Regions from separate parts of the Homo sapiens genome. Here region 2 is linked to region 1. Evidence: fine-mapped expression QTL. Tissue or cell type: tibial nerve. Region 1 holds a variant in brackets; the other region holds the start of a gene. All regions are shown on one strand. Distances are from middle to middle. Region 1 overlaps DAAM2 (dishevelled associated activator of morphogenesis 2). Region 2 holds the start of DAAM2-AS1 (DAAM2 antisense RNA 1).

Region 1 (5,372 bases):
CAGGCATCTTGCCGGGCTCGGGGCCCCACCGGGGTGGAGATGGAGGCCCTGACCTCTGCTGCAGTGGCCGCCCTCACCCTGTATGACATGTGCAAGGCTGTCAGCAGGGACATCGTGTTGGAGGAGATCAAGCTCATTAGCAAGACTGGTGGTCAGCGGGGGGACTTCCATCGGGCTTAGCACCTGCCCTTCTCACCCATGGCCCACCCAGGCCTGGAGCTGGGATGCAATGTAGGCTGAGGGAAAGACGTCAGGTTCCTTTAATCACAGTCACTGTTTGTTTACCTTGAGCAGTAAACCCGAAGTCAGCCTGCTCTACTACTAACAAACAGGCCTGCTGCTAGATGATCTCTAATGACCAATGGGGCTTCCTTTCTATAGGGAGGATACCAGCAGGCCCTTAAGCCTTCCAGGACACTAAGGTCGTGGGAGCGGGACTGCAACAAGCAATGCCAGATAACTGAGAAATCATGTTCTTTGTGGACTATTTCAGACAACCAGGTTCCGACAGTCCAGCCCAGAACTTTTCCTTCTCATTTTGGGTTTTCTCTTCTCCTGCTTTCCTGGGGAGAGATTAAGCGCTCATTAAGCAGAGGAGCCCACTTTGAGGAGAGCAAAGCACAAGCTTGCCTGAAGAATGGATCCCAACTTCTCCCCGGCAGCTCTGCCTCCCTAAGTCTGTGAAGCCGCAGCCCTGCCCTGTCCTGTCCTGTCCTGACTTCATCTCTCCTTCTGCCCAAGTCTGTGTCCCATCAGACTTGCAGCCTTTCAGCTTAACAGTTGCCCGGTCCTGCTGGCCCCTTTTCCTCTGGCCCCCCTCTTCTGAAACAGGATGTGCACACATGGGCCATAGCCCTAAGGACTCCTGCCAGACCACACAGCCCACACCTGGCCCTGTTCACGGCTGTTCCACCCACCCCTCTTTATTCTGGAGCATATCAGGGAAAGAAAAGTTGATGATAGATTGCCTTCACCCTCACAGCGCACAAATAAAGCTACGATGCCAACTTTGCAGATGCAAGAATGAAGACACTGTGTGGGTAGGGCACTGAGCTGCTGCAGTTTCACAGGGAAGGCTGCACCTATCAATCAATCAATCAATCCTATCCCAAGACACAGTTCCCTGAGGGAAGAAGAGGAGGGACCTGGAAAGGCCTAAGGGTGTACTCTCTGTATAGCCCCGCTATGGGAAAATAAAGTGGAGTAGGGGGCATAGAAATGCACCATCTAAGGGAAATCTTTTGTCAGGTGGTGGCCAGGGGTGTTCAAAGCTCATTGCTTGCATTACCAGCTATTAGAGAGATCAGAGAGGGCAATTAATTAGAGGCTCCTGGTTCTCACATCCCAAACACACACAGTTCTGGCCTGCTGGGCTCTCTAACTTGGATGTCTTTGAGTCCTCAGTGGTGCCCCCTGCCTGCCTCCCCTCTGCCCTATGCCAAGGTGTGCTGGCAAATATTAAACAACCAGCTCTCTGGAAAAGACAATTTGTGATATAAATACTCCCATGTTGAATAATTTCAAGCTACCAGTATGTCAAATGGCTTGCAAAATTTCTGAAAATGTAAACAATTGGTTCTCACAGAGCTGGTACAAGCTGGCTCCAGCACACTCTCAGCCCACCCCAGATCCCCTCATAGGAAGAAGGCACAAGTTTAAAGGCAGACTGGGTAGGGATGGTATGAATTTAATATTTTTTAGTATTACAATATATTCTTATAAAAAAGGTGCAAGTGAAAAAGGACACTGTAGATTATGTCCATTAGCCTCATTTGTCATCTGAGGCAGCTGGTGAGAACAGCCTTGGCGTGAAGGCATCCCTGGTAGAAGTCGGGGGAGATAGATAGTCACAGTTCCCCAGTTGGTGGAAATGGGATGGGAGTAGGGAGAGGCTGGAACAGACCCTTCCCCATTCACCTGGAGAATTTTCTCCTCCCACTGCCCTAAACACTTTATTTCCATCACAGGGGAGAAATGCTGCTGAGAAGGTTGTGTTTGTTAGGTTGATGACGAATTTTACATTGGCCACAAAATTAGCTAGAGAAACTTATCTAAAGGTGGCAGGAGCAGTG[G/C]GGAGGGCATGAAGAAAGCAAGACCAAGAAACAACCTATTAAGGACCAGCTCAGCCACCCCGACTGGGCACCAGCCCCTTCTTACTCAGTTGAGTATGAGTCCATGGTCCAAGGCACTGTTGGAGATCTGGCTACAGTGGCATCTAGCACCAGAGCCACTGGCCAGATGTAGAAAATAAATAGAAAAATATCTTTCTTTTAGAGTGAGAAGGCTGAGCTCTGGAACAACGTATTTGTGTCCTCTGTCAACAGTTGAACCAAATTCTGCTTTTCTGAAGATCAAATGTATCTTGAACAGCTTCCATAGTCCTTTTGTTTCCAGGTGCGTATCCAGTCTTCCATGGTGGGTGGGAATGCCAGACACGCTTGTGGAGCCCTCCCCTGTTCCCTGCCCCTGAGGGGGTTAGGTTGACATCAGCCTGGTCAGTTTGGGAGAGGACCTTTAGAGGCCTCACCCACAACCTCCCATCTTCCCCAACACTTGTCTTGCAGTGGGAGCTCTTGGGGCTGCAGATGCATATAGCCAAACTCTCTGCAGCTGTTCTGCCTGGAAGCCTTCATCTTGCCCTCACCTGGGTTCCAGGATGGCCTCTTCACACCTGTGTCAGCCAGGCTTGCACTTGCTCAGATCCCTCCCACCAGAACACACACACACCGCCCGCCCCCTCAAACCAACGCACATGCTGGGCTCACCGACCCTGTGTTTCTTCCCCCCCGCAGCTACTACGGTCCCAGCCCCAGGAGTTGGATGCAAGTGAAAGGCAGAAGATAGGCAGCTGAGAGTAGGCCCAGCTCACCAGTCTCCACTGGCAATAACCCTGAGCCAGGGATTAGGTTGGAAAGTGAGAAACACAGGGAAGGGCAGAAGGGCCAAGAGCTCATTGATGGTAGAGGTTAGGCAGGGCCAGTCTCAAAGAAGATGAAAGGCCAACTCGGAACGTGGTATTGAATAAGAGCCTTGATGGAGTTTTAGAAAAATTTTGTCTAGATACAGCCATCCCATCCACCAAGGCCAGCATGAGATGGACAAAATGGAAGGTGGCAGTGGATGGGAGGACCAGAAGGAACCCCTTGCAAGTTGGGCTGAAGAACCAAATTGGGTACCAGAAATGGGGTGGCCCCCCTCTCAGCCTTCCTCCTTGGCACCTTCAGGTGATGTGCTCCCCAGAGGATATCAGCCTTCCTCCTCCATCCCCATCTCCCCAGTTTCCCTTGCCTGCTCTGCTGTTCGCACCATCTGAACGCCTGAGAGGAGGGGCCACCCTTAGAGACAGCATGTTAATGTAGAGGGCAGCTCTGGCCCTCAGACCTCTCAGGAACCAACTCCCCAACGCCAGTGGACACATGGTTCCAAGTGGCCACCTGCAGGCTGGACAGAGGCTGCTGTGGCTTCTGCCTTGAAGCTAGTGTTAGAGAAGGGGTGGGAGGGCCTGAGCAATTTATATGAAGTAGAGAACTATGGGATGGAGCTAAGCATTCAAGTGCTGCCCTCTGCTGAGGGGCTGTAGGGGACTCCAAGGCAACATTTGAGGTCACTGTCTGGCTTCACAACAATGGCCAGGTGTCCAGGAGATGGGGACATGGGAGATGCCCAAAAGGCATGAGGTGTGGTGATGCATGAGGTCTGTCTTGAGCCCCTCGCCAGATTCATCAAGCACCTGGTAGTGAGCCATAGCTGTGGAAACCCAAGGTGAGTCTTCTAGGACTGTGGATTAGTAGACAGGATGGAGGTGAGGGTAGAGAAGGAAGGGAAAGATACTTAAGACATGCAGGGAGAGGCCAGAGGACTTGTGACATGGGAAACAGACACTGCTACTCTGTCCTGATGGCTTTGGTCCCTGCATCATCCTTCCAACATTGACTGTTCTCTGGAACCTACCAGAGCTGATCTAACTAGAATATATAATGCCTCCTCTGTTCCCATTCAAGAGGAAAGTTTGCCCCCAGGTCAATGTTCTGTTGAGCCTCCCCTTGAGAGAAGGGAGTCTGGATTCCCTCACCAGATTCCCTCTCAGGGGCTCCCTCCATCATTGCTCCCCGTGCTACACAGGAACTCTGGACAAGGCTGTGGACCTCTCCAGTCTAGATCTGGAACTGTTCTGTGCCAGCACATGGGTGCCCATGGTAGGGGATGGGGAGCAGGGCCCCTTCAGCCTGGGGTTACCTGGCCTGAGGCCATCCAAGGCAGCCTCAGAATAATACCTGGGGCCAGGGCACAGAAGGAATCATGTGAAGGGGAGATAAGAGGAGCCCCTTAAGGTAAGCGTGGGGAGACACCTGGTCCAGCCACACACAGCCCCCCATCCCAGGACCCAGCCCAAGGCTCTAAACCAAGCACCAAATGGTTTAAATATCACCACCTCCTCCACTCAGCCCCATTCTCACCAGTCCCTGTCTCCCGGCCTCCTGTGTGGCTAGTTCCCCAGGTCAATAATTTAGCCGGTTTATTGCCCGCTCCCGGGTAACTTCCAGGGCCTGGCTCCCTGATCGCTTGCGGCTGCGCTTGAGCTTGCATAAGTCCTTGTCGAAGACCTCCCCAGAGCGCAGGGCCGACACCAGGTCATCGAACTCTCCTCCCTCCTCCAGCGAGCTGCCTGCAGCCAGGACCTTCCGCTGCCGCTGCCACCGCTCACGTTCCCTCTGCTCCTTCAGCTGCGGGCGGGGGGCCAAAGATAGGAACCCTCTCAGGGAGAGGCGCTGAGGCCAGGGCAGCCCCCCAACCCTGGGCTAACTCCTAGGCCATGGTCATGCTGCCTGCCTGTATCTGTTGGCCCCACTTTCTTCCTGCCTAGGACATACAGGCCCCCAGCTTCACACCACTCTCTTCCCTCAGGCTGGGAAGAAGTTTCTCTCTCCTGGGGCTGACATCCAACCCCTATGGTGTTCCTCAGTTCCTCAGTCTCTGCCCTCCTCCCACACACCCCAGTTTGGGGGTGTTCTCCCCAAGTAGCACCCGTCTCCCCTCAGTCCCAGGCCTGGCACTGCCCCTCACCATGGCTTCCATGCGCGCCCGCCGCTCCTCCTCCTCCTTCCTCCTCCTCATGGCCTCTAGATCCTGCCGGGCCTCTGAGAAGGCCTGCAAGAAGGTATCAAAGATGCCAAAGAATTCGTCTGGCTGCATCTTGCTGTCATGCTCCCCGAAGTGCATCAAGGCCTTGGCGAACTGTCAAGGGACAGAACAGGATTGGTGGAGAGTGCCCTGGAGCATGCTGGGCTCAGCCCCTGAGGTTAGCTGGGTTCTAGCCAGAGCAGAGCCCAGCGCAAGGCTGGGGACTGTTGGCACAGGGGGCAGGGCTGGAA
Region 2 (5,372 bases), 6.0 kb after region 1:
AAGTTACTTAGCATCTCTGATTTTAGCGTTCATATCTGTCAAGTGGGAAATAACCTTTCAACAAACCCATAAGGTAGGTGGTGACAAATCATTAAAACACTTAACATGGTGCCTGATATCTGATAAATGGACCATGATCTTTGCGGTATGTGGTTATCATTGCTTGTCTTGTTAAGAGCGAAGAAACGGTTTTCTCTCAAAGCTCTGTAACTCTGGGTTTGTCCCTCCTGGGCTGTCTGTGGTAGGAATGGGTGAAGGAGCTTGTTTAGATAAGGCTGGGTTGGCAAGCAGTGGGGGTTGGGGCACCCTTACCTTGTCCCTGGCCTCATTTAGCTGGTCCTCCAGCTCGGAGAAGCTGAAGCTGGACACCGTGATGAAGTCGCTCATGACAGGGACAAACTTGTCACTGGGCTCCCGTACCTGGCGCCTCTGATACTCCAGCTCCTGAGGAGGGAGGGTGAAGTGCTGCTTAGACTGGTGCCAAGATGAGAGTCGGGTGCAGGGGTCACCACATCTCCCCTCGTCACTCACAGGACATTGAGCCCTTTGGAAGAGGGAACACCCTGCATCTCAAAGTTCTAAGGATGGCAAAGACTATGAGCTAACATTAGCAGCCAGCCCACCCTGCCATCTTTCTTTCTCTAGAGCACTGAGACCCAACATGTGACCTGGGGCCAGCAGCATCACCTAGGAAATTATGAGAAATACAGACTCTCAGACCCACAGGATCAGAAGCTGCATTTTAACAAGACTCATCTTTACAAGACTCCAGGTGACTCATGCACAAATTAAAGAGACATTTTTCTAAAGCTCCCAGCTGATTCAGAAGCTGCTGGTCCATGTACCGCACTTTGAGTAGCACTTAACAGGACTATAAAATTGTAAATTTGGAAATCATCTTCCCCCACCGTAGTGGCAACAAAACGTTCTTTGTCATCCTTAATCTGTCTCTAAAGTCCATTCTTCCCTTACCCACTGCCTCTCTCCTCAGTGAAGACGGAACGGGTCCCTTCTTCCTAGGTGTGGGGGACAAGACTTAGAGACATCCCCATACTGGGCCAGTCTGGCTCACTTCCCCACTCCTCTACTGGTGTTTTCTGGAAGGCTAGGGCCAGAGATAGTATCAGCCGAGAAGCCATCAGAACGGGAATGGTGGGAACAAAAGACCTGGGTCCTCCACTGGCCCAGGAAACAGGCAGAGAGACATAAGGAAGAACCTTCTGGGTACATCGGTCCCACTGCCACATTGCGTGCTTCCTGCCCCTAGCTGGCAGTCAAGGGATGAGGATTCTTTTTCCCATGCACTTGAATCCAATGTAGGCATGGGTCAGATGTATGGTTCATTCCACTCCACTGCCAAATAGATACCAAGTTGGACAGTAACATGGGTATAGTCTTAGGTAACCCCTTTTAAAAGGCTCAAACTTAAGCCCCAGTAATCCAGTTATCCTTTGGGAGGGCTGACCCTGTGCTAGAGGCTGTACCCATTGTTTTTTGCCCCTGTGTAGGAGCTTAGGGTGCAGTGACGAACAGTGTTTGCTGACAGCAGCCCTCACCCAGGTAGGCACTGACAAGGTACTCACCACCTCCACCGCTCTCAGGCCCCTCCTGAGGTTGCCCACCTCCTTCTCCAGTTCTGCTAGGCTGTAAGGAGACACAGAGGGAAGGGAATGAGGACCATCAACTCCCGCCTTGAGGTGCTAAGGCTGGTTCAGGGAGAGGGCAGAGCCAAGCACAGTGGCCTGGGAGTCGGTGAGCCTGGGTTCCAGCCCTGGTGTGGCCATTGATGTTGGCCCTGACAAAGCACCTCCCCTTCATGCCTCTGTCTGTGCATCAATAAATTAACAAGGTGAAGCCTGCATTCTATAGATCTTTCCAGGTCAGAAATGTCATGCTGCAATATCAGAAGATTTCCAACCTGTGGCCTCTGGCTTAGACCTATTTATTTTTATTACTACCAGGTAATGCTTATAAGCTCTTTATGTGATCCTGCAAGCAATAGCATTCGATACCAGTGAGCCATTTACCACTATGTTTCTAGTTTTCCTGGAGATGACATCTATCAGCCTAGATGTTCGTGTCTGATATCTTGCCTAGCAGATGCTGTTGGTGCCCCACCCACATTTCCTTGGACCATCCATTGTAGGGCATGGCCCCAACTCTTCCAACTGTACGCACACTCTTTTTGAGGCCAAGCTCTTTCCACCTGTACCTGTGGCCAGAGAGTTATTCCCTGCCCCTGCAGAGCCCCTCAGCCAATTACTGAGAGGAGATGCTCTCTGATTGCCCCAGCAACCTTGCCCTTTGGGTGGGAAAACTGAAGTAACTATTCCACACTGTTTCCCAGAATTCCTCATGGGGTTAAGCACCAATTGCCTGTGATTGGTAACTGGCTTAATAATGTTTGTTACTGGCATTCTTTCTATCTCTGGCTCACTTCCCCATTCTTCTACTGGTATTTTCTGGAAGCATCTCTGAAATAAGGATTTAAGAGCAAATTGTCTTTGTTTGGTTTTTCCCAGAAGCAGACCCTGAGACATGGCCCATTCCTACTCAGCCTGAGGCAGGATAGGTAGTCAAGGAAGTGAGCACTTCTCAGAACACAGCAGCTGTGGTGGTGCCCATACAGTCAACACAATAAACCTCAGCATTCGCATTGTAATTGAGCTCATTCAAGCAAAGCTATCTGCAGTAGGGACTTTCCCCTCTGGAAAGCATGCGCATTTTGATTTTACCTATCCTCAGACTGGCCCTTTGCTCATATAATAGTAAAAAAACACACCCCTAGGTGGAGATTTAAGGTGCTAATGAGACATGCGATGTATGAAAAAGCACACACAGCTACTACACATGTGCACCCAGAGGACCACTCAGAGCCTGCTTCCCAATACCTCTTCCCACCTCTTTATGAATAATCGTGTAAGTCTCCCATACTGGGAGTCTTCCTGGTGCCAGTCTTGGCTGTCTCATCCTTACAAGCAGCCCACCCTGAATCCTCTCTCTCTCAGGGTGTACTGTCTATTCTGCACCTAACTCACAAGATATCTTCTTTTGCAATACATTGTTCTATGCTAAACCCCCTTTGCTGTGTGTCTGTTTAAATTCTTTTGAACTCAGAAGACAAGAACCGAGGTCTCACACCAGCCATCATCAAGCCCAGAGTAGACCCCAAAAGAGGAAAGTAAGACAAGAATGAGGGTCATCATGGGGAGAAGGAAGTCTTGGAGAGAACCCTCACTTGACTTTGGCAGCTTCTGGAAGATGTTGCAGCTCTGAAGGCATGTTTAGAATATCAGGAAAATGCTTCTCCAGGATCATGATCAGGTAATGGAGCAGAGAGATGTTTCTGTGGATGAAAGTCAGGTCAGTGGTAAGTGACAGAGGAAACTGGGCACGAGGGTCAGAGGGTCAGAGGATGGAGTGTTAAGAGAAAGGGGTGATGAGTCTTAGGATGTTCCCGTCCTAATAGAGGGAGGATGTGAGAGGCCAGGGTAGGGTGAGATAGAGGCCAAGGAAGTGGCCGGGAAGGGAGGTCCTCACCTGTCGATGCTGGACTTGGTGTCAGCGATCTTGTTGAGGCTGGCCACCCGGAACCCGTAGGCGCCCCCACGCTGCCCTTTGTTCATGAAGTTGCCTATGGCTAGGATGACCTCTAGCATCTGTCTAAGACGCTTGCTGCGGACCAGCTCCCGGGAGGCCAACAGGATGGCTGGGAGAGGAGGCACAGGTCAGAGGCCTGCATGGGCTAGGCAGGGCAGCAGTTCTCATTGCACCCCAGGAAGATGCCACCGCAAAGTTCAGAAAAGGGGCTGTCAAATGCCTTCAACTCTCAGTGAGGCAGAGATTATACCTACTCCTCAGCAGACCCATCGATTTCACATTCACCCACCTCCAGGGGAAGCAGACACATTCACCAAGGCCAATTCACCAGATACCCCATTTGTAGGACGTGCCAGCTCTTCCCAAGAAGACAATTTCAGAAGATCTTTTCTTACATGTATTTAAAGATTATTAAGAAGGCCGGTTGCGGTGGCTCACACCTGTAATCCCAGCACTTTGGGAGGCCGAGGCAGGGAGATCACTTGAGTCAGGAGTTCGAGACCAGCCTGGCCAACGTGGTGAAACCCTGTCTCTACTAAAAATACAAAAAATTAGTCAGGTGTGGTGGTGCATGCCTATAATCCCAGATGCTTGGGAAGCCAAAGCAAAAGAGTCCCTTGAACCCAGGAGGCTGAGGCTGCAGTGAGCCAAGATTGCCTCACTGCACTCCAGCCTGGGCAAGAGCATGAGACTCTGTATCAAAAAGAAAAAAGAAAAAAGAAAAAAAGATTATTCAGATATTCTTTCCATGAATATACTCATGAATATGACACTTTTACTTTTCTAAACCTAGCACTTAACTTCAGCATTTTACCTATTATGGGATTGCTTCTGCCTGTCTTGAAATGCTATATTCTATTGGTTTTTTGGAAAGAAAAAAAATCAATTAAATAACATATTCTAAATTATAATATTCTATTATTTTTGTTCTATAAAATAATGGCATGCTTTTCAGTTGATAGTGTCTAAGATTTGATGAAATAAGCTACTTGACATCCTGTTGAATGTCATTTTTAAGATTTTTCCAACCTTTGGGCATCTTAACCATTTTCCCCCAATGCTCTAAATGTTATCTTTGCCAGAAATACAAACTAAGCTAACAGTAACCAAAACTTCAATAATTCATTCTGCTGTGTATGCTCTGGCCCTTCCTCAGCTATGATGTCTTTATGGTGGGTGTGCAGAAGGGGGACACAAATCCTAAACTGAGATTTTGTCTACTAGTTACGGAATATGATTTTTGAATATTCAGTGTGGCAACAAAAAGACCAGATTATCCTGTGATCTGTGGCTTATGCCAAACTGAACATTCTTTAAGATGCTGCTAGGAAGATAAAATGAAAACGACTTTGCTAAAAGTTTGTAGAAAGCTTCGAACACAGTTAGAAATAAGTAACTGTTAAAAAGAAGCTATACCAGCACTTTGGGAGGCTGAGGCAGGCAGATCACCTGAGGTCAGGCATTCGAGAACAACCTGGGTGACACGGTGAAACCCCATCTCTACTAAAAATACAAAAATTAGCCAGGCGTGGTGGTGCACACCTGTAATCCCAGTTACTTGGGAAGCTGAGACAGGAGAATTGCTTGAACCCAGGAGACAGAGGTTGCAGTGAGCCGAGATCACACCACTGCACTCCAGCCTGGGCGACAGAGTGAGGCTCCGTCTCAAATAAATAAATAAATAAATAAATAAGTAAATAAAGTTGTAAAAATGAATAGTAAGGTTTGTCAGTAGCTTTTAAGTTGAACATGTACATACTCTATAACCTAAA

What was found. PIP is the estimated chance that this variant, and not a neighbour inherited with it, causes the effect.
Region 2: it holds the start of DAAM2-AS1, and the variant in region 1 is fine-mapped to the expression of DAAM2-AS1 in tibial nerve (GTEx, PIP above 0.99). The same link has a PIP of 0.9 or more in skeletal muscle, subcutaneous fat and sun-exposed skin.

Annotation. Positions count from the first base shown.
Region 1 is chr6:39,901,165-39,906,536 of GRCh38, reverse strand. DAAM2 (dishevelled associated activator of morphogenesis 2) reads right to left here. Exons shown (of 25, transcript NM_001201427.2): 24 at 5,065-5,235; 25 at 1,668-4,724. The coding sequence ends at 4,500. MOCS1 (molybdenum cofactor synthesis 1) reads left to right here. Exons shown (of 11, transcript NM_001358530.2): 11 at 1-2,367. The coding sequence ends at 180. Among named protein-coding and RNA genes, the nearest start is that of DAAM2-AS1, 6.5 kb to the right of the region's middle. The variant G/C (reference allele first, on the strand shown) is at 2,073.
Region 2 is chr6:39,895,149-39,900,520 of GRCh38, reverse strand. It overlaps DAAM2-AS1 (DAAM2 antisense RNA 1), which reads left to right and starts at 3,141. Exons shown (of 4, transcript NR_125831.1): 1 at 3,141-3,324. It overlaps DAAM2 (dishevelled associated activator of morphogenesis 2), which reads right to left. Exons shown (of 25, transcript NM_001201427.2): 20 at 3,541-3,709; 21 at 3,239-3,346; 22 at 1,584-1,644; 23 at 313-444. RefSeq lists enhancers at 2,406-2,922, 3,223-3,722.